Homo sapiens: one gene and its partners. The protein of the gene in region 7 purifies or fractionates together with the protein of the main gene of each other region. This does not show direct contact. Each region holds a gene or a part of one and is shown on either strand. Other genes may lie near its edges. The genes, in order: CASP10, PPP1R15B, ERMP1, FBXO11, MFAP3, LAPTM4B and TNFRSF10A.

Region 1 (3,500 bases), on a different chromosome or scaffold from region 7:
AGTGCAAATGAGATTTATCCTTTGTCCTGGGCTCTAGGACTTAAAAAAGAATCTTTGAAATTTTATTCAGATCACAATTGTGCAGTAAAAGTGAGTTGCAGAGTAGTCAGAATCCCCAGTTTTTCAATATGTGACTTCAGAAATAATGTGGCATAAATACCCCAAGGGGTTTAGACTAGAGTATAAAAACATGGTTTTGGACAGGCATGGTGGCTCATGCCTGTAATCCTAGCACTTTGGGAGGCTGAGGTGGGCGAATCACTTGAGGTCAGGAGTTCAAGACCAGCCTGGCCAACATGGTGAAACTCTACCTCAACCAAAAATACAAAAATTATCGGCTGGGCGCGGTGGCTCATGCCTGTAATCCCAGCACTTTGGGAGGACGAGGTGGGCGGATCACAAGGTCAAGAGATCAAGACCATCCTGGCCAACATAGTGAAACCCCGTCTCTACTAAAAATACAAAAATTACCTGGGCATGGTGGCGGGCGCCTGTAGTCCCAGCTACTCGGGAGGCTGAGGCAGAAGACTCGCTTGAACCCAGGAGGTGGAGGTTGCAGTGAGCTGAGATCACGCCATTGCACTCCAGCCTGGGTGACAGAGCGAGATGCTGTCTCAAAAAAAAAAAAAAATTATCTGGGGGTGTTGGTGGGCACCTGAGGCAGGTGGATCCCTTGAATCCGGGAGGCAGAGGTTGCAGTGAGCCGAGATCGCGTCACTCACTCCAGCCTGGGCAACAAGAGTGAGACTCCATCTCAAAACAACAACAACAGCAACAACAAAATAACAACAACAACAAAAACATGGTTTAAACAACTGGCATGGGGAGATACATCCTGCTCTTCCTCACAGTGGATCCATTGGAGTGGTTGGTTAGAAACATTTAAGGCCCTAAGATAAGGATTCCTACTAAGTGGCTCTATCTATTCTTCAAGAGGGCAGCTGTGTACAGGATGAATCGGAACCACAGAGGCCTCTGTGTCATTGTCAACAACCACAGCTTTACCTCCCTGAAGGACAGACAAGGAACCCATAAAGATGCTGGTAAGAAAGTCTGGAACAGTTTATCAAATGCAAATTGGGGATCTTAAAATTATTTTTTATTTTCACATTTTCTTTCTGTGACTTTTATCTTCCATATACGTGTAAGGATGATATCATGTTTCTGAGCCTCTTATATATCCCTGGGGAGTCATCAGTCTGCTAAAGAGTGGCAAGAATCTTTGACTATTCACAATTCTGAATAGAGGAGAGCATGTACTGGGGGAGAGCCTGCTGGATTGGCACGAGACAACTTGGGCGTGAGCTCCAGCTCCACCACTAACTAGGTGTGTGATCATGGGAGAGTCAAGAGACCTTGGCTTCTTCAACTGTGAAACAGGATGAAACACTGGCCACTGCCGATTCTCAGGACTGTTGTGACAACACTGGGTATTACGTGATAGGAGATTCATTGTAAGATTTTATGGTTATGAAAATAAAAATAATCCAAAGCTTTAGGCTATTTGCTGTGCAAATTTTGTAACTATTAGCATTGTTTCAGTTTTTTTTTTCTTTGAGACAGAGTCTTGCTCTGTTGCCCAGGCTGGAGTGCAGTGGTGCAGTCCCAGCTCACTGCAACCTCTGCCTCCCAGGCTCAAGCCATTCTCGTGCCTCAGCCTCCCGAGTAGCAGGGATTACAGGCGTGAGCCACCACACCTGGCTATTTTTTGTATTTTCAGTAGAGATGGGGTTTTGCCATCTGGCCAGACTGTTCTCAAACTCCTGACCTCAAGTGATCCGCCTGCTTCGGCCTTCCAAAGTGCTGAGATTATAGGTGTGAGCCACTGTGCCCGGCCTTGTTTCAGTTCTTCATTTTGTTTTGCATCATTTTATTATTTCCCCTTTCTCTCTCTCTCTCTCTTTTTTTTTTTTTTTTGTTTTTAAACAGAGATCCTGAGTCATGTGTTCCAGTGGCTTGGGTTCACAGTGCATATACACAATAATGTGACGAAAGTGGAAATGGAGATGGTCCTGCAGAAGCAGAAGTGCAATCCAGCCCATGCCGACGGGGACTGCTTCGTGTTCTGTATTCTGACCCATGGGAGATTTGGAGCTGTCTACTCTTCGGATGAGGCCCTCATTCCCATTCGGGAGATCATGTCTCACTTCACAGCCCTGCAGTGCCCTAGACTGGCTGAAAAACCTAAACTCTTTTTCATCCAGGCCTGCCAAGGTGAAGAGATACAGCCTTCCGTATCCATCGAAGCAGATGCTCTGAACCCTGAGCAGGCACCCACTTCCCTGCAGGACAGTATTCCTGCCGAGGCTGACTTCCTACTTGGTCTGGCCACTGTCCCAGGCTATGTATCCTTTCGGCATGTGGAGGAAGGCAGCTGGTATATTCAGTCTCTGTGTAATCATCTGAAGAAATTGGTCCCAAGGTGAGAGCTCTTTTTTTTCTTCCATTTGTAATTAATTAGTTTTATTTATTTTTTATTTTACTCTCATTCAACACCTTTGGTAAGGGTGAGAGTTCTACGTTGTTCTATCCATGTACCTGTTCAACCATCTGCCTACCCTCCTGTTTATCTATTTATCCATCTATCCACCCATTCATCTATCCATCCATCTATCCACCCATTCATCTATCCATCCATCCATCTGTCCATCCATCCATCCATCCAGCAACCTTGTATTGAGTACCAGCCTGGACCTGGAAAGGAAGATACAGAGTTAAAAAAAGACAGAGTCCTTGCCCTCAGGTTGCTTACAAGCTAGAGGGATAGACAAACAAATAGACGGGGAAGGGCATCCCCAGCTGGTAAGTGCACATTGTGAAGTATAGGTGTTATGGGAACATGCAGAATGAGTACCTTGCCCAGATTTGAAGGATCAGAGGAGGCTTCTAGAAATGACAAATAGATGTTAGGTAAAGAATCAGGTGAAAGATGTGCTGGGCAGAGGGAATAGCATGAACAAAAGCATGGGGGCCTTTTATTTGTTCGTTTATTTATCACTCACTCTTACGTCCTGAGCACCTATGTGCTATCTTTGGACTTCTATTTGCCACTGCTCTGACAGCTTCCCTTCTGTCTCTGCCACATGCTGTCCTCTTGGCACCTTTAGCCATACCTAGAGGCCATGGGCTCCTCCATGAAAACGTCTCCAAAGTTGCCATCTCTGGCCCACTCATCTCTGAATTCCTGGGGGCAGAGACCCTGTTTCATTCAACTTTATATCCTCAGCCCCTGACCTGATATATTGTGAGCTTGTTAAACATTTGCTGGGCCAATGAATGACTTGCTTGAGCCTGTCTCATTAACATCCCGCTAGATATCCTACCTCTGTTTAGCCCTTGGACCTCACATTCAGCATGCATGTTTCTGAGCTCATCTTCCCAGCTCTCTCCAGGAGCTCCTACTCCTGAATTTCCATTTGAAGGAATGGCCATAGTGCTCTTCTGGGAATTCAGGATTGGAACCTTGAGTCAACTTTGCTTTTCTCTCTTCTTTACCAGCC
Region 2 (2,969 bases), on a different chromosome or scaffold from region 7:
GGCCAACATGATGAAACCCCATCTCTACTAAAAATACAAAATTTAGCCGGGCATGGTGGCAGGTGCCTGTGATCCCAGCTACTCGGGAGGCTGAGGCAGGAGAATCGCTTGAAACCGGAAGGTGGAGGTTGCAGTGAGCTGAGATCGTGCCACTTCAATGCAGCCTGGGTGACAGAGGCTCCGTCTCAAAAAATAATAATAATAATAATGCACAAAACAGAGATTTCCCTGCTACTTAAGCACTAGGCTAAGCCCAGCATCTGAATGTTATTGCTTCTGTGAATACCCAGTTTAATTTTCTTTGCAGCAAAACTGAAAAGCTAGGGCCAATTTCAGAATCAAATCTTCAGTTTCTTAGAAGGGCCTCTCATAATACTGCAAGAACCAAGTTCTTCTATTACTAAAATGTTGTTTGCAATTATACTAATCCTGCTTAGTAATTCCAAAACCATTGTAAAATACTATGATACATATAATATAAAGTTGAACCAAAATATCACTTAACATTTAATAATTGCAAATATATTTATTACAATTTACAGATTAGTTATGTTATATACACAAATATAATTTTAACTATAAAATCCCAACTAGTTACATTTAAATTATTGATCTGTAGAAGCCAATTTAGAGTCTTCTAGTCCCCTAACTTTACCTTCCTTAAATTATACAAAAATAAAATCTGATAGTTTTGATTTCAAGTTAAAGATGAAGAAGTGTTACATTTCATCACTCAGAAATGGAACTTTTACCTGTCTGTACAAAGCCTTTTACATGCTACATTGACACTTAAAGCACCATTAACAAGACTTTAAATGTATAAAATGTTTAATTAAAACCTCCAAAGATTTTCTCTTTAAGATTACGGGGGTTTAACTTTGTTCTAACTAGAATTGGGATGAAACAAGAATTTTGCTTTTTTCTCCTTCAGTCCAACTTTAAAATAGTCCTTTCTGTCCTTCTTATCACCTTCTGATCACTTCTTCCAAGGAGGCTAGTATATGGAAGAACTCTTAATCAAGCTTTCACTCATTTGGTAGTGAGGTTAGAATCCCATGGGGAACAATTTTCCAAAATCCAATGAAAGATGTCTCATTATTTTCAAATACACAGAGGTGCTAGGTTTAAGAAACAGGAAACACAACGTTAAGTCTCGGAAATAAAATGTTTCAGCCTGGTTTTAAAAGAATGCCTGTATGTTGTCAAAAGGCTTTTTTCAAGGCAAATGACGCCTGCTTTCCAACCGACATTGCTGTTGCTTGAAACTAGCCTGTTTTCATGTTATTAGACCATCCTGTAAATGTGCTCCCTATGATTACCTAAAGTGGAGGTGCACAAAACACACAGAATCCCAGCACTTTGAGAGGCCGAGGCGGGCGGATCACGAGGTCAGCAGTTCAAGACCAGTCTGGCCAACATAGCGAAACCCCGTCTCTACTAAAAAGACACAAAAAATTAGCCGGGCGTGGTGGTGTGTGCCTGTAATCCCAGCTACTCGGGAGGCTGAGGCAGGAGAATCGCGTGAACCCAGGAGGCGGAGGTTGCAGTGAGCCGAGATCGCGCCACTGCACTCCAAGCTGGGGGACCGAACGAGACTCTGTCTCAAAAAAAAAAGAAAAAAACAAAAAACACACAGAATAAGGGCTCTGCAAAAATTTGACCAGCTTTTATAGTGTTGCATTCTCAATGTGTTTAATTATGAATATATAAACAGTGGAGGCAGTTCTTAGAACTGGATAGAAATAAAATAATGACCAGGTAGATTGTAAACTGAGGTAGTAACCCTGTAAGCACTTCTGATGAAAAATTCATCCCCACACTTAAATAAGTTCAAAACTAAGAGGTCACCTATTCTACTTATGTTTTCCATTACCTGTGACAGGAAGCACACGGAATGAAAGCAGACCACGGAAGGGTTAACAACCCCTCAACCTAACTTATGTGTACCTTGTAAAGCTAAACAAATAAACCAAACACAAACAGTCAATGCAAAGACTTCAATTCAAAGTAACCTTTGGGCTAAATATATTAAAACTTTCCAGTCATTAATCTATACTTCTATCCTTTCCTGAAAGTAAAGGCCTTGCCATTACTTCTCTCATTATTAAATAGTAGGACACAATAAACCTGGATATTGACTGAAGTTTATATTTTACATTTCAAACGTGAAAATTCAGAACTGCCCATTTCCAATTTTACAGTGGGATCCTGACAGGTTTTAAAAGTGACAGTGCTGAGGCATGATATTCATTAACACTGGTTTTCTGTTGAGAACATATACACCAAAACCAAATTGCTCTGAGATGTCTCCTATTTTCTTTCTAGGAAATTTCTAGGCTTTTAAGTTTAAAAAATAAATGATTATGATGTAATTATTACTTTCCAGAGTGTTTTGCAATAACTTCAACCTGTTAAGAGATACAAAGAACTATATTAAACTGGGAACTACAATAACGTACACAGAACCCTCTTCAAAGAAATTAAATATATTAGATGTTAAAATGTGGTAGAAAGATGCAGCTTTCCCAAAGTAGTAAAGTACTGCACATATGGGTTTTGTGGCAGTCCTTGGAAATATCCTAGGTAGAACTTAATGTAGAAATAAAAAGGCTACCACATATTTTCAATCCAAGTCATTTTTACAAGAAAAAAAAAAGTGACACAAAATAATGCACTTTAAGTTGGTAGCATACACAAGGTTATTTTTTAGCCTAACATAGACAGGCCAAATCATTGAAATAAAAAAAATATAGAAAAACATAAAAGCCCATTAACTTCTGAATTTTGGGAAAGAAACAAGAAAGAGCCCAAAGTTTTCAGATAGGCACACATAATTTAGATTAGAAATGAAAATGGGCTTTAAGCCCTATAAATATTGTTTTCCAAGAAAATAAGTTTTGAAAGTGCAAAATGACAACTCAAAAAGGTCCCCTTTCCACCTCATGCAGGCAAAGGACATTTAAAAGCAC
Region 3 (3,500 bases), on a different chromosome or scaffold from region 7:
AGGATCTATTACCATCTTTTGGGAATGAGGTGCTAAACAGTTCACCCCTGTTCTTCTATGGGGAAAGATGACATATTTTAGAGGAGGCCAGCATTTAAATTAGTATGGAGTTTAAAAAAGGAAACAAACTCTGTTTTAGTGAGTCAATGTATATTTCTCACATAAAGAATTTGATCTCAGAAAATGCTGTTTACTCACATACTTTCAAGATTTAAAATTTGCTTTTGATAAATAAATGCTGCACAGTAGGCCGTAACCATTGACAATATACCTGGAATGTTCCCAAAATCCCTGTAGATACGAAAGTCAGTATCTGAAGGAATGATTCCACTCTGAAAAACCTCCTGAGCCACCACAGAAGCAAAAGGGTGTTTAGCTGCTGAAACATAAGCTTGAACCAACCAAGGATTTTCAGGACCTAAAATGAAAGATGACAACACAATAGAAGGTATTCCGGCAATTTTTTTTAACATACTAATGTTTTTCAACACATAGAAAACAGTAAAAGTGGTGGTTTTGGGAGACGGGTCCAATATGTACCTTTTCATCCCTTTTTCTGTAGTTTCCAATGTTTCTCTGATATATGTGTTTGACTTTTAGAATAAAAACCTTTTGTGAAAATAAAGTATAAAATAACAGCAATACAAAAGTCTGTCTGAAAATGAAAGATCATTCATAAATCTATCATCCTAAAATGCCTATTATCAATTGTATATCTTTAATTTTCTTACTAATGTAGAATTGTGTGTATATAGCTGTACTCAAGATATATATACTTTGTACATTTGTTTTCACTTAACATTATATTAAATGCATTTTCCTATGTTGCTAGATACAAATTGGGTATACCTTATCTGAAATGCTTGGGATCAGAAGTATTTTGGATTTTTTACTTTTTCGGATTTTGGAATATCTGCATTATACTAGTAAGCATCCCTAATCCTAAAATCCAAAATCAGAAATGCTCCAATGAACATTTTTGAGCATCATGTCAGTGCTCAAAAAGTTGTGAATTGTGGAGCATTATGGATTTCAAATTTTCAGATTAGGGATGCTCAATCTGTATTATAATAATCATTTTGATAACTGCTTAACATTTCACTGAATATGCCATAAAGTTCCTTGTTACTTTTTATAATTTATCATTATTAATAATTTTCCATCTGTATCTCATACATCTACAGCTTTTTCAAATGGGAGTTTTTCCTGTAGGATAGTGGGATACATTGTTTTATAATTTATATAATTATATAATTATACGTATATTTATATAATTATAATTATATAATTATATGTATAATTGTATAATTATTCACTCTTCCCTCGCTGAAAAAGGATTATACATTCCTACTCTTGCCACATACCTTGTAATGCCTGCCTGGGGAATGAGTACATACTCTTCTGTACCTATTAACTGCAGGCGTGGCTACATGACTTGCTCTAGCCAACAGACTGTGAGGAGGAATGACATGACCCTCAACTGGGCAGAGTTTTCAAAGGCATTAACATCATTCATACTTATCCTTAACTTTGATTTGTGAGATCAATACATCCCTTATAGGGGCTTCTCCTTCAGCCTGGATCCCAGAATGAATAAGACACATGGAACATAATAACCGTGGACCATAACTGCAGTTATTCAGAAACCAAAATGCAACACGAGCAAGAAATAAGCCTTTGCTGTTGTAAACCACCAAGATTTTGGGGTTGTTACCACAAAACTTAGCAACATATTGACTGATGTAAACAGACCAAGTAACTGAATGTCAGGGAATCTAAGAATATTGTTTTTTTAACTTCACAGATTATAAAATTGCTTTCCTACATTTTAAAAAATGACCAAGGCTGGGTGCAGTGGCTCACGCATATAATCCCAGCACTTTAGGAGGCCGAGGTGGGCAGAGCACCTGAGGTCAGGCATTTAAGACCAGCCTGGCCAACATGGCAAAACCCCACCTCTACTAAAAATACAAAAATAAGCAGGGCATGGTAATCCCAGCTGCTCAGGAGGCTGAGGCAGGAGAATTGCTTAGACCTGTGAGGTGAAGGCTGCACTGAGCCAAGATTGTGCCACTGCACTCCAGCCTGGGTGACAGAGTGAGACTCCATCTGAAAAAATAAAAATTAAAAATTAAAAATGACCCAAAAAAGCAGAGGGACCCTATAGAAACAGACATACAAGTAATCCAGATACTGGAGTTACCAGACACAGATTCTAAAATAATTATGATTAATATGTTTTAAAAAACACAGATATCAGTAATTTCACCAGACAAGTATAATCTATTTAAAAGAGTCCTACAAATGGAAATCCTAGAATGAAAAAACATAACTGATGTTGCGAATTTTAATAAATGGGCTTAACACAAAGTTTAATACAGCAGAAGAAAGGATTAAAATTAAAGCATAAAAAGAAAAAAAGGTTGGAAAATACACAAATGTGAGTAATTGGAGTCCCAAAAGAACAGAAGATAGAATGGAGAAGATAAATGTTTAAAGACTTAATGGCCAAGAATCTTCCAAAACTCATAGAATTCAAGCCACGAATTCAAAAAGGTCTACAAACCCCAAACAAGATAAATATAAAGAAAAACTGTATCTGGCACCATTTACTTTTGAATACTATTCCCCACCAAAAGAAACCAAGCCTCCTTAGAGAAATGGCTGATTCCAGGTCTGGGACTAGCAAAGTACAAGGTAAGTTGAAACATCTGTGCCAGAAAGTAAGAAAGTGATCAAAAAGACATGTCAAAGGGGCTCAGGCACTGATTTGAAATAGACACCACTGGCCTAAACTGGGACAATTCATGCAACAAAATAAACAATAGTAACAGAATATATAGAGTAAAATTAAAATACATAAAGTACTGAAATAACAAAAAAAAAAAAAAAAAAAGGAAAATGGAAAGCCTTCCTTCTTGCAGAATTCCAACTATGACCTACAGGCAGAATGATGGAACCAGAAACTCAGCAGTAGCATTTGGTAAACATTGTAATAAAAATGCTTGGGGACAAGAGTCATCAATGATTGCTAAAACTAGGATCAAAGTTTTATGACAAACAGGATATTTACCTAAAGTATCTATCACTAAGGGGAAATCAGTAACTTGTACAAAGAAAGAAATAGTAGAAAAACCTGGCAAATAAATACCTTAATCAAACGATGAAAATGTAGTATCATTAATAATGAGACAAACAGATACCACATGCATCCTGATGTGATGCACTGAGGACACAAATACAAAAGGAAAAAGAACTATGATGATGGGGAAATACGTACATTACGAGATCTTATCATATTAAAATACTATTATTAAAATATTACTATTTGATATTAAGAAATTTATGCTAAAAAATACAATGAAAACCATACTGAAAAACAGGTAAAGCCAAACTATCATTAATTATCTTAAAACTTAGGATAATAGTTCCTCTTAGATGGGAGGGAGTTGTATTTGAGAAGAGAGGTTAAAAAAAATGCCTAGGCAGGCAAGGCAATC
Region 4 (3,500 bases), on a different chromosome or scaffold from region 7:
GATCAGGAACTACTTGTGGTTCCTGCCTTACCTAGTAGGTCTCCAAGCTGGTTGGCCTTCTCTTGGGTTTGTCAGAATTTCCAGTAAAGGGAGAAAAGCAGGATAAGAGCTCTTAGGCCTTATCAGCAGAGCTCTTAGGCCTCATCAGCACAACTTTAACACTAATAGCAACACTACTCTGTTTCTATCCCTCAAGTAAGTTCCAAGCTTTAAGAAAATAGGCTCTTTTTACAGCTCCCATACTTCCTGCCTCCAAAAGGTTGAGTGGCACTGTCTCCTCTCATGGGATACATTTGGAAGGGTTAGCCACCAGATGACAGAGTAGTACCCCACAGTACTTACTTCCTAAAACAGGAAAAATCATGTTTCTTGTGCAGAACTCCTCTATTAAGACTGCACAGGATCCATGAAGTTAAAATATCACATGCTAGAACAATGCCACAGAAAGTATAACTAGCATTCCTGACTAGAACAGCAAGGAGTGTCTCCTGGCTGCTGCATATTATAAATATACAGCTCATTCCTCATCAGTACAGTGTCGAGAAAAAAGTATATACACGTATATATACACACGTATACACACATATATACGTATATACACACGTATACACACGTATATACACACGTATACACACACGTACGTATATACACACGTATACACACACGTACGTATATACACACGTATACACACACGTATACACACACGTGTATATATATACACGTATACACACACGTGTATATATATACACGTATACACACACGTGTATATATATACACGTATACACACACGTGTATATATATACACGTATACACACACGTGTATATATATACACGTATACACACACGTGTATATATATACACGTATACACACACACGTGTATATATATACACGTATATATACACACATATATATGTATATATATACACGTATTTATGGAATTGCAGGGTTTTTAAAAATTGAAATCATTCAGTACGTATAATATTACATAAAATATTGCCGGTGGGGAGATATATATATTTATGTATATATATACACACGTGTGTACATATATACACATATATATGTATATATATACACACGTGTGTACATATATATACATATATATGTATATATGTACACACGTGTGTACATGTATATATATACACACGTGTGTACATATATACATATATATGTATATATATGTGGGTACATATATATGTGTGTCATAGATAAGATTTTTATCCCACAAATATGGGATTAGAGAGACTAGGTTTTTATTCTACAAGATTAGCTCAGAGTAGAAATGAATAGCAAAATCTATTAATGCATTCATTAAATTTCTTGAACTATAAATATCACAATTAGATTTTCAGCACTTCAAAACAGTCCTGTGACTTTTCCAATAACTAGAAAAAAAATACATCTATTTTCAAAAACTCCCATGTCAAGATTATTTCCAGAACCCAAATTCATCTTTTATTAAAAGGTAATAAATGAGAAACTAATAACAGTTATTAGATTCCAGGTAGAAGAATTTAGTAGCTGGAGGCTGATGTACGAAGGGGACTTCTGAATTTTAAACTGTGGCAATATTACCTATTCAAAGTAATTAATTTTATTTTATTTATTATTTATTTTTTGAGATGGAGTCTCATTCTGTCACCCAGGCTGGAGTGCAGTGGTGCAATCTCAGTTCAAAGTAATTAATTTTAACAACTAAAATCTACTGATGAGAACACACAGCACTTCTGTAGACTTGTAAGCTTTCCTCATACTTTGTAATATCTAAAAAAATTACAAAATACATTCCTGCAGTAAAGACAATAAATTCATCAGAACGGGCTGCAAAAGCTAACTCCTTCTAGAATTTTAAAACAAAACAAATATCAAAAATCCAATCCCACACTACTGTTTCATTAAATCATGGACTATATTACCGAATTGTCACTGCGTAAAATACAGTTTTTATTTTTGAGACCGAGTCTTGCACTGTGTCACCTGGGCTGGAGTGCAATGGTGTGATCTCAGCTCACTACAACCTCAGCCTCCCGCGTTCAAGCGATTCTCCTGCCTCAGCCTCCAGAGTAGCTGGGATTACAGGCGTGAGCCGCCATGCCTGGCTCATTTTTGTATTTCTAGTTAAGACGAGGTTTCACTACGTTGGCCAGGCTGGTCTTGAACTCCTGACCTCGTGGTCCACCTGCCTCGACCTCCCAAAGTGCTGGGATTACAGGCGTGAGCCATTGCTCTGGGCCTGTAAAATACAATTCTACTAGTACATGAAATCCCAATCTCAGGAATTTAAGAAATTAAAAAAGCTAATGATTAGGCTAGTATTTAGTCTTAGGATAGCTGATCATTTCAGCTAACGAGTGAACACAATAGTCCATGAAATACCCAGACCAATATTTCCTTACGTGGGGTGTAAGAAATGCTCCCCCATGGAAAGCTTTGAAAAATCCTCAAAGATTTTAATCTATAGGGTCTAGTTTCTTTCTTCTTCAAACACTGGCCATTACAGATAAGACAAAGCGTATATACACACACACATAATGTATGTACAAACATGTATATACACAAATATACCCACATACACACACACATACACATACACACGTGTGTATGTAAATATATTTAAAAGTGGTGTCAAGGAAGTTTTTATACCAATTAACCTGTGGGCAATGAAGCAGCTAAAGACCATTCTGACAGACTTTTTGCCTGAAAACATATTATACTGTAACTATTTTATTACCACTAAAGAACCTGAAATGCATCTTTATATAAAACAAATGATTTTATATACAGTCTGAACTAGTTTGTCTCAAAACAGCGAGTCTCACTTTGATTCCCTATCTGGAAAGTTGTCTGATCCACTATTAAGTAACTCTATCCAAGATCCTAATGCAAATGTTACATATCCATTAAGAGTTAGTAAAAGGTTAAAAAAAAAAAAACAAAAACCACACATACATTCTTAGCTTTAGTTCTTTAATTATCCTGTAATAATTAAACCCAGCATATTCCTAAACTAGCAACAACAAAATCCCTTTCTTTCCAAACTAGAAAGTGACACTTTGCGTGCTCCATAAAACTTTCGAAATAGAGTATTCTTAGTTAACTTCTGATCATTATATGAATCGGACATTTAAAAAAACGTAATTAAAATGTCAATTTTTCAAAGAATAACATATTTTTCCATATGGCTGGCAACATCTTTATTATTTTAGTTAACGAATTCATCTTAATGTTTTATTCATTTTAAGGCCATTTATGTGCCCTCTTTAAGACTCACACTATTTTCCCTAAAGTTCTTTTCCTCTCTGCTCTGTGCCAACACAGAATCTCCAAAACAGTTTGTACTAGCTGCAGAGAAGCAACAATTCTACAGTAAATTTCATTTACCATTTGGTTGGGTACATACTGAAATTTGGATTCATGAATATTGACAGTTTATAGACATCAATGAGAAGAAAATTGACACTGGCATGTGACTGCCAACAACCAAGTCACCTTACCTCAC
Region 5 (3,500 bases), on a different chromosome or scaffold from region 7:
ACATAAATAGAGTTATTGACTTCTAAAGCTATGGAACCTCCTTCATGGGCAAGAACATTAGACAACAGAATTTTCTTTTAATAGTTTCTCCAATACGAAGAGACAAAGTACAGTGTATTTAATAGTTTGTAAGCATACCAAATTTCTAGCTCAAACTCTGTAAACTAGCTAAGGGAGGAACTGACATCTTAAGTGTCTAGTTAGTAGAAATGCAAATATAAAACTACAGGGACAGATTGTTAGACACATTTAAAAGAAGAGCAAAATATCTTGAATAAAAGGCAAAATAACATCCTAGTCCAAAAGTCTATGTATTTATGATCACCTTCCTGGTAATTTGACTCCCCCTTTAAGCCACCAACTCTCAAAGAAAAAATTCAACTTTTATTTCTATAAAATATGGGATGAAATGCCTAGCTTTATGTCTTATAAAGCACCAAGATAATTAGTTTTGGAAATGACATTTACTCTCCTTTATATTTATATGAAGGCTGCTTGATCACAGAACATAAAAAACAATGAATCACTGTATTTTGCCATTAAATATCTCAAAGTCTAAATTACAATACGGTGCAAATGTCATTTAATTTTCATTAATTAACCCTTGAAAGGATGGTTGAATGGTGACAAATACTTTTCTAAATCTTTACAATTTAAGGATGGGGTATACAGAGTAAAATAAAAAACCTTCAGACTTTGGCAATACATGACACACTAAACGTGTTTATTTCCATTTCCTCCTAAAACCGCACAAAAAGGACACTAAAGGAAACAAAGACTTAGGCAGAGAGGGGATTTTGGAAGTAATATAATCTAATTGATTCAGTGCACAGTGATTTGCTTCTTACGACATGCTACAAGTTAGTAGGAGAATCTAGTTTGGAATACAGTCTCTTTTTTAAGAGGGGGTGATGGGTAGAAACAATGGAAATAACATTTATTGAATGACTGCCATCAGCCAAGCACTGTGCTAGGGGCTTGACATGTAAGTTTCCAAGCTCTTTTTCACTGCAAGATATACAGCAATTGGAGGACATAATTTTGTACTTTATTCTAGATTAGTGGTTCTCAACGGTGACAGGCTATGAGTGTGCTGAAAAAATGCTCCAGGCTTTCTCCAGAACTTTGATTAGGAGTTCCTATAGCTTCATCCAGGGCAGCACTTCCCAAACTTCATTCATTCCTTCTCCTGTCTTTTTTGTTGTTGTTGTTTTTACTATATCCATGAACCAAATTATCGTCATTTCTGCTTTTCTTTTAAATCAACTCATTTTATTTTTACTTTCACATTTATTTAAAAAGGAAACTCTACATCAGTTCTGTGGACAAATGTAACCGTACACATAAACATAATGAAAACAAAGAAGTGTTATTAGCTTCCAGAGATACTACTGCCTGCTGAAAGGCTTTGAGCTGGAGGCTTGCTCTCTCTGTAGTAAAACCAAAACCAAAACAAAAAGCCCCCCACAACTCCAGTTTATTTTAATGCCACCTCATTTCTTAACCTGCCATCTCCTTCCTTTCTACTCTTCCCCACCACTGAGTTTGAGATCGGAGGGATACATTTTCATATACTGAACAGTATCTATTGAGCACCTACCATGTGCCTACCTACTGCCCCATAGACATTGTCTCGGCCTCCACGAAGTTCAGTCTGGCAGATGATGGACACTAACTACATATATACAAAATAAACTCAATGTTACCCAAGGGAAAATACAGATGCTACAGGAGGACCCAACATGGGGAGTTAATCTCATCATGGAAAGCCTCTGAGAAAAAGAGGTGTGCAGCACCTATTCTTCAGGTGCAGGACCTGAAGAATAAAGAGGAATAAAAATTGGGAGGAAAGCACTCAAGGTAGAGGGCCAGGAGACAGGGAAAAATGAGAGGGGTCACTGGTCAGGAGTTGTTCACAAAAAACAGCTAAAAAATTGTGGTAAAGACAGGCAGTGGCCAAAAATGCTGCGTCTGATTCCTGATTCTGGAGGAGAACTAACTGGGCCAATGGTGAAACTGGAGATAGACTCCGGAAGCTGCAGTGGCTGAAGTGAGTGAGGGAGATATTCGTCCATGATGAAGACGTCAAACAACTGAGAGGCTCAAACGTGGGCAGATCACCTGGGGGTATGGTCACATCCCCCCAGGATCAAAGTAGCTAGTGTAGAAGAAACTGGAAAGAAAGGAAATGGATTCGGTCTTCCTGCTCTGAGATTCAGGAACTTCAGCAGAATGAACAGCTGTCACAGGCGAGGGCTGCAGGGCAATGAGTGTCCTCACCAACACAAGGCTTGGCAAAGCATAACTCCCACATGGAATTCTGCCTTCCCGCAAACTTCCTGAACCTCCTATCAAGGCCTTAGCTATTCCTCCTACATAAATTCAGAGTATAGCTGTATAAAGGATGGCTTCTCCTTCACCCCAGAGCCCTCCCCACCTACCGTACTCATCTGGCGCTGGTATATGCTGCTCTGTACTGCTAGGCAGTCTATCCCATCTCAACTACCCCTTAAGAACAAGGCCTATATTTTTTATTGCTGTACGTCATAACTAGCACATGCTCAATAAATATTGATGGAGATTAGTTTAAATTTGATTCAGTATGTGACAGATCTTTATAAATTGAATAATGTTATGCAACAGGGATTATAATTGTTCAAACTGACATACAGTTGCCTATTATAAATTCTCTGAAACAAAAACAGTCAATGCTAACAATCTTGGAAGACCTTAAAAGTACCTAATTAAATGCATTCTTCCGACTCCCAACCTGATACCTTCATTTACCATGTTGTCCTAGAGGATAATGGTAGGAATAAAAGATCACCAAGTGCAGTTTCCAAACCAGGTTGAATATCACAACTGTCAGGAGAGCTTTTTAAAAATATGGATTCCCAGGTCCCAACCCAGAACGAGTAAGAAACTCTGTGTTTGCGCCTTGGAATTTATGACTTTTAATTGGCTCCCTGGGTGTTTCTGAGGCATTGGATTCATGTACTGCATCTAAGGGCCACTAATACAGTTCCTCAATTTCCTCTGCAACTGACCTGCAGAATGGTGCTTCAGGCTATTTGAATATTTCCAATGAGAGATATAATCACTCACATTCCATTCTAGATTTAGATTACTCTAGATCAGCAAAATTGAAGGTCTCTAATAAGAGCAGGGTAGCAGAGAGGTTCAGAGTATAGGATTCAAATACGATCTGTGACTCTAACCAGCCTTGCAACTTTTATAAATGACTTAATCTCCCTGCCTCAGCCCCTCATCTTTAAAATGGGCAAAATAACAGAATCTATTCTCACAGGATTATTGCAAAGTCTGAATGAGGTAGTATACATAAAACACAGAGTCTGGCAATGGTAATCACTGAATAAGCTCTATTATTATTGTTCATGGTTCTTTCAGATATTGAACTAAAATTTACATTTGATAGTTACATCATTATAAAACACTCAGAATACCATGCAACCATTTAAAAATCTTGGGGGTTGGGGGGA
Region 6 (2,363 bases), about 75 Mb from region 7:
TGACTCTAAAAGAAATGGTGATGGCTCTGAAGAGGAAAAAAGACCCCTAGGTGAGTGTGTCCATGTGCACACACAAATAGGGCAGGCACTTGATTGACTACAGTAACCACTCATGGTGAGAACTGCAAAGTGCAGTGAAAACGCCAAGCTTTTGGTATCAGCCTGGATTCAAAGCCTGGGTCAGTCACATTTTATCAGCGTAGCCTTGGGTAAGTTCCTTAACATCAGTTTCCATGTCTATGAAATAAGGATACCTCAGAGTTGGCGGTCTATACACTGGCTGATTTCGGCTTTCTTGGAGTAGAAAATGGAATACAGAATAGTTATATCACCCTTCATTCAGTAAACTAACATTTATTATGCATCTAGTATGTAATAGTCATTGTGAGTATAAGATAATTGAGACAAAAGACAGTCCCTGCCCTTTAGGAGTTCAGAGATGAGAAGACAAAACAAAACCTCACCCACCTCAAGTGATTTGTGGAAAGGGAAAGACTATTCACAAACAAAACCACACTTGGTTAGATTTTCTATCAGGGATATCACTTATGCTTAAAGTGGTATTCATCAATTTTGTTAATTTTCATTTATCTGTCCCTTTAGCTCCTACTAGAACCACACTAAAATTTTGTTAAGTTTTTGTCACATTGCACTCTCCCAAACACACACACACACACACACACACCCCTCCTCTCCAGCTCTACACACTTCATTACTTCTCTCCTCCCAGTCTTGGAGCTCCTGTGGGGCTGAAGCCAGGTCTCACTTCCTCGAGGGTGGGCCAGTGCCTATCCGACAGCAGGAACTCAGATGTTTGCGGAGTGACGGAGGTGCCACTTAGGCCGGCCCCCGAAAAGCCTGTATGGTTCCTTCAGCTGCCTAGGCAGAGGGCACCTGTACTGGCTAGGGTCCAGTCAGAACACAGAAGCCACACAGTGATGTGAATATAGTTTCATGAAGAATTATTAACAGGAGACTGAGGAACCGGGAACTGACTCATGGCGGGGAAAGAGCACTAATGGATAAGAAGATTGAAGTACGGCACTCAGGGACGGAACAAGCTAGAACAGAGGTCCCCAAGGCTGGGCTGAGACACGGCTAGGGAGGGTGTGGCTGAAGCCCATTGGACAGTGGAGAGGCTTCCCGCTGAACCAGGTAGAGGCCAGTGTGCACAGAATCACCTGCGGGAAGCCGTTCCCGGGAGCCACGGCCCGCTCTGGAAACCGCCTGAGAGGCGCTGCCACCGCTGTCTCCGCTCGCACTGGGCCCTGGGGAGCACTGCCAGCAAGATCTGAACACTGCAGAAACACACAGGAACCGGGGGCGGGCAGGCGGGCAGGGGGGTGGAGGAGGGGGGGTGGCGGCTTTCCTCCTCCAGTGCCCCCTACTGGCCTGGCTGAACAGGGTCAGGAGGTGAAGGAGGAGTATCTGCAAGGCCCAGCCCATGTCAAGCTAAATGGGACTCTGGAGCTGTGATGCAAGAAGCCGATAACTGGCCAGCAACACACAGGCAAAGGCAATGCGCCAGAGTCGCACCCGCCAGCCGGCCTTTGTTCCTGAAAGAGGTAGTGATCTTTGCCTATGTGCTAAATACTTTATATGTCAGGTATTAACCAAGATACAGAGTCTGGGGCAAATGTTCAGCGTTGCCCACGTGGAAAAGGAATGGAGTAGGCAAGATACACTCAGTACAGAACACATGCCTGAGGTAAGGAAGCACAGCAGGAAACTAAGTCCAACAAACCAGCACCCACTGAGCACCTAGGTGTCCAGGGAACTCAGTCACAGCGACTTGAACCTGAAAACATGTCACTGTCTGTTCAGGGGCCTGCAATCTAGCAGAAGGCAGACACAGGTAAAACTCAACATGAGCAATGTGTGGATGCAGACAAGTTAGGAAAGAACAGACAAGGACAACCAATTTAGGCTAGGGAGTCAAGGAAGGCCTCTCAGTAGGATGACCAGGTGTGCAGTAAAGAGGATGACATTCCAGTAGGGAGTTAAGAGGAAAGCAGGACACAGGGCACTTTCTGGGAACTGCAAGGTGTTTGCTACAGTGAACACTGAAGGGAGAATGTTGCAGAGATGAAGTTGGAAAGATAGGCACAGGTCAGCACATGAAGAGAGCCTCATGGTCGACCTTGACAAGTTCTAGCCAGTATCTAACAACAGCATCTCCACTAGCAATTCCAAAAGTGTCAGCTTGAGCTGCGGGAAGAAAAAAGTATTCTCTAAAACAAAGCAACAGCTGTCTTCTCTGCGTGTGCATATTTGACTTTAGGACTGAGCCCCCAGCGCACATACGTGTGTGTGCATTAGATACAGCAACTTATAACAAGTGGAAACAGCTGTGACCGCACCAG
Region 7 (3,500 bases):
TTCTTTTAAAGTGCACATAGAACATTCTCCAAAATAAACCATATGCTTGGCCATAAGATAAACCTCAATACACTTAAAAGGATAGAGATAATACAAAATACACTCTCCTACCACAATGGAATAAAATTAGAAATCAATAGCAGGAAGAAACTGGGGAACATCACAGCTATATAAAAATTAAATAGCACACTCCTAAATAACCAACTGGTCTAAAAAGAAATCAAAAGAGAAATCAGAAAATAAGACGAATGAAAATGAAGACACAACATACCAAAACCTATGGGATACAGCTAACGTAGCTGAAGTTTACAGAGAAATTGTCTATTAAGGAAGAAGAAATATCCTTCCTAAATGTCTATTAAGGAAGAAGAAATATCTCAATCTATAACCTAATAATCCACTCTAAGACACTCGAAAAAGAAGAGCAAACTATAGATAAAGCAAGCAGAAGGAAGAAAATAATACAGATTAGAGCAGAAATTAATGAGACGGAGAACAGAAAAACAACAGAGTAAATTAATGAACTCAAAATCTAGTTCTTTAAATAGATCGATATATTGGCACAACTAATTGTGTTAAAAAATTAGCACAGGGAAAAAATAAGACTCAAATTATAGTCACGCACTGCATGATGACGTTTCGGTCAACAATGAACCACATATGTGACGGTGGTCCCATAATATTATAATGGAGGAGGAAAATTCCTATCGCTTAGTAATGTCATAAGTCAATGCGTTACTCAGGTGTTTGTGGTAATGCTGATGTAAACAAACCTACTTCACTGCCAGTTAAAAGTATAGCACATATAATGAAGTTCTATATATAATATTTGATAATGATAATAAATGACTTACTGATTTATGTATTTTTGATACTATACATTGTAATGTTATTTTAGAGTGTACTCCTACTTACAAATAAAAAAGGTAACTATAAAACAGCCTCATGCAGTTTTCCAGAAGAAGGCATTGTTATCAGAGGACATAGGAGTTGACAGCTCCATGTGTGTCTGCCCCTGAAGATCCTCCAACGCGACAAGATGTGGAGGTGAAAGACAGTGATGTTGATGAACCTGTCCTTGTGTAGACCTAGGTTAATGTCTGTGTTTCTTTTTTTTTTTTTTTTTGAGAAGGAGTCACACTCCGTCACCCAGGCTGGAGTGCAGTGGCGCAATCTCAGCTCACTACAACCTCTGCCTCTCAGGTTCAAGCGATTATCCTGCCTCAGCCTCAGCCTCCCGAGTAGCTGGGACTACAGGTGCCTGCCACCATGCCCAGCTAATTTTTTGTATTTTTAGTAGAGACAGGGTTTCACTGTGTTAGCCAGGATGGTCTCGATCTCCTGACCTCGTGATCCGCCTGCCTTGGCCTCCCAAAGTGCTGGGATTACAGGTGTGAGCCACTGCGCCCGGCCAATGTCTGTGTTTCTATCTTAGTTTTTAACAAAAAAATTTTTAAGTAAAAAAAAGTTTAAGTTAAAAATACAAAAATGTTTATAGAATACGAATATAAAGAAAGAACATTTTTTGTACAGCTGTACAGTTTTTGTTTTTTAAGCTAAGTGTTAAAACGAGTGAAAAAGTTTTAAAAATTAAAAAGTTTATAAAGTAAAATAGTTACACGAAGTTAATATTGAAGGAAGGAAAAAAAAATTTACAGATTTGGTGTAGCCTAAATGTACAGTGTTTATAAAGTCCATAGTAGTGTACAGGAATGTCCCAGGCCTTCACATTCACTCACCACTCACTGACTCACCCAGACAAGATCCAGTCCTGCAAGCTCCATTCATGGTAAGTGCCCTAGACAACTACATCATCTTTTTTAACCTTTTATACCATATTTTTATTGGGCCTTTTCTATGTTCACATGTTTAGGAACTCAAATACTTATCATTGTGTTACAATTGTCTACTAGTACAGGTTTGTAATCTAAGAGCAATAGGCTATATCACATAGCCTAGGGATGCAGTAGGCTATATCATCTAGGTTTGTGGAGGTACACTCTATGATGTTTGCACAATGATGCACTTGTCAGAATGAGTTCCCATCATTAACTGAGGCATGACTGTATTAGAATCAGAAATGAGAGAGAGCACATTACTACAGATTATATAGAAATAAAAAAATTATAAAAGAATACTATGAAACCTGTACAACAAAAAATTAGGTACCTTGGATGAAAGGGGCAAATTCCTAGAAAGACACAAACTACTGAAACTGAATCAAGATGAAAGAGACAATGTGAATAGACATATAGCAAGTAAAGATTTTGACTTAGTTATCAAAACTACTCCTAAAGAAAAGTCGTTTTCACAAGATGGCACTGAAAGCAAAGAAGGAAGCTCCTGCCCCTCCTAAAGCTGAAGCGATGCAAAGGTTTTGAAGGCCAAGAAGGCAGTGTAGAAAGGTGTCCACTGCCATGAAAAAAAGAATATCCATACATCACCCACCTTCCGGTGGCCCAAGATACTGAGACTCTGGAGAGCACCCCCAGGAGAAACAAGCTTGACCACTATGCTATCATCAAGCTTCCACTGACCACTGAGTATGCCATGAAGAAGATAGAAGACGACAACAACACACTTGTGTTCATTGTAGATGTTAAAACCAACAAGCACCAGATCAAACAGGTTGTGAAGAAGCTCTATGATGTTTATGTGGCCAAGGTTCAACACCCTGATTAGGCCTGATGGAGAGAAGAAGGCATATGTTCGACTGGCTCCTGATTACCATGTCTTGGATGTTGCCAACAAAATTGGGATCATCTAAACTGAATCCAGCTGGCTAATTCTAAATACATGTATATGTTTTCACCAGAAAAACAAAGTTGAGGCCCAGATGCCTTTACCACTGAATGATACCAACCATTTCAAGAAGAATTAATACCAATTATTCAGAAACCCTTTTTAAAGACAGCAGAGGAAGGAGCACTTTCCAATTCATTGTATAAGGACAATATTACTGATATGATTTGGCTGTGTCCCCACACAAATCTCATCTTGAATTCCCGTAAGTTGTGGGAGGGATCCAATGGGAGGTAATTGAATCATGTGGGGCAGGTCTTTCCCTTGCAGTTCTCATGATAATGAGTAAGTCTCATAAGATCTGATGGTTATTATAAGGGGGAGTTTTCCTGCACAAGCTCTCTTTGCTTGCTGCCATCCATGTAAGACATGACTTGCTCCTCCTTGCCTTCCATCATTATTGTAAGACTTCCCCAGCCACGTAGAACTGTAAGTTCAATTAAACCTCTTTCTTTGTAAATTGCCCAGTCTTGGGAATGTCTTCATCAGCAGCACGAAAAAAAAAAAAAAAAACTAATACAGTAAATTGGTACCAGTAGAGTGGGGAGCTGCTGAAAAGATACCTGAAAATATGGAAGCAACTTTGGAACTGCATAACAGGCAGAGGTTGGAACAGTTTGGAGGGCTCAGACGAAGATAGGAAAATGTGGGAAAGTGTGGAACTTCCTAGAGACTTGTTGAATGGCTTTGACCAAAAG

Evidence for each region.
Region 1: the proteins of TNFRSF10A (region 7) and CASP10 purify together in Homo sapiens (affinity purification with western blotting; 2 studies listed by BioGRID and IntAct, with this or other methods). This does not show direct contact.
Region 2: the proteins of TNFRSF10A (region 7) and PPP1R15B purify together in Homo sapiens (affinity purification with mass spectrometry; 2 studies listed by BioGRID and IntAct, with this or other methods). This does not show direct contact.
Region 3: the proteins of TNFRSF10A (region 7) and ERMP1 purify together in Homo sapiens (affinity purification with mass spectrometry; 2 studies listed by BioGRID and IntAct, with this or other methods). This does not show direct contact.
Region 4: the proteins of TNFRSF10A (region 7) and FBXO11 purify together in Homo sapiens (affinity purification with mass spectrometry; 2 studies listed by BioGRID and IntAct, with this or other methods). This does not show direct contact.
Region 5: the proteins of TNFRSF10A (region 7) and MFAP3 purify together in Homo sapiens (affinity purification with mass spectrometry; 2 studies listed by BioGRID and IntAct, with this or other methods). This does not show direct contact.
Region 6: the proteins of TNFRSF10A (region 7) and LAPTM4B purify together in Homo sapiens (affinity purification with mass spectrometry; one large-scale study listed by BioGRID and IntAct). This does not show direct contact.

The regions. Positions count from the first base shown.
Region 1 is NC_000002.12:201,207,141-201,210,640, forward strand, and holds part of CASP10 (caspase-10 isoform 1 preproprotein), read left to right. Parts: intron 1-934; coding exon 935-1,043; intron 1,044-1,149; exon of another isoform or gene 1,150-1,327; intron 1,328-1,929; coding exon 1,930-2,422; intron 2,423-3,500. UniProt on the Homo sapiens protein: Involved in the activation cascade of caspases responsible for apoptosis execution. Recruited to both Fas- and TNFR-1 receptors in a FADD dependent manner. May participate in the granzyme B apoptotic pathways.
Region 2 is NC_000001.11:204,402,881-204,405,849, forward strand, and holds the end of PPP1R15B (protein phosphatase 1 regulatory subunit 15B), read right to left. Parts: 3' UTR 501-2,969; downstream 1-500. UniProt on the Homo sapiens protein: Maintains low levels of EIF2S1 phosphorylation in unstressed cells by promoting its dephosphorylation by PP1.
Region 3 is NC_000009.12:5,812,618-5,816,117, forward strand, and holds part of ERMP1 (endoplasmic reticulum metallopeptidase 1), read right to left. Parts: intron 419-3,500; coding exon 272-418; intron 1-271. UniProt on the Homo sapiens protein: Within the ovary, required for the organization of somatic cells and oocytes into discrete follicular structures.
Region 4 is NC_000002.12:47,899,999-47,903,498, forward strand, and holds part of FBXO11 (F-box only protein 11), read right to left. Parts: intron 1-3,500. UniProt on the Homo sapiens protein: Substrate recognition component of a SCF (SKP1-CUL1-F-box protein) E3 ubiquitin-protein ligase complex which mediates the ubiquitination and subsequent proteasomal degradation of target proteins, such as DTL/CDT2, BCL6, SNAI1 and PRDM1/BLIMP1.
Region 5 is NC_000005.10:154,045,467-154,048,966, reverse strand, and holds part of MFAP3 (microfibril-associated glycoprotein 3 isoform 1 precursor), read right to left. Parts: intron 1-3,500. UniProt on the Homo sapiens protein: Component of the elastin-associated microfibrils.
Region 6 is NC_000008.11:97,848,788-97,851,150, reverse strand, and holds part of LAPTM4B (lysosomal-associated transmembrane protein 4B), read right to left. Parts: intron 1-2,363. UniProt on the Homo sapiens protein: Required for optimal lysosomal function. Blocks EGF-stimulated EGFR intraluminal sorting and degradation.
Region 7 is NC_000008.11:23,204,603-23,208,102, forward strand, and holds part of TNFRSF10A (tumor necrosis factor receptor superfamily member 10A), read right to left. Parts: intron 2,815-3,500; exon of another isoform or gene 2,306-2,814; intron 1-2,305. UniProt on the Homo sapiens protein: Receptor for the cytotoxic ligand TNFSF10/TRAIL. The adapter molecule FADD recruits caspase-8 to the activated receptor.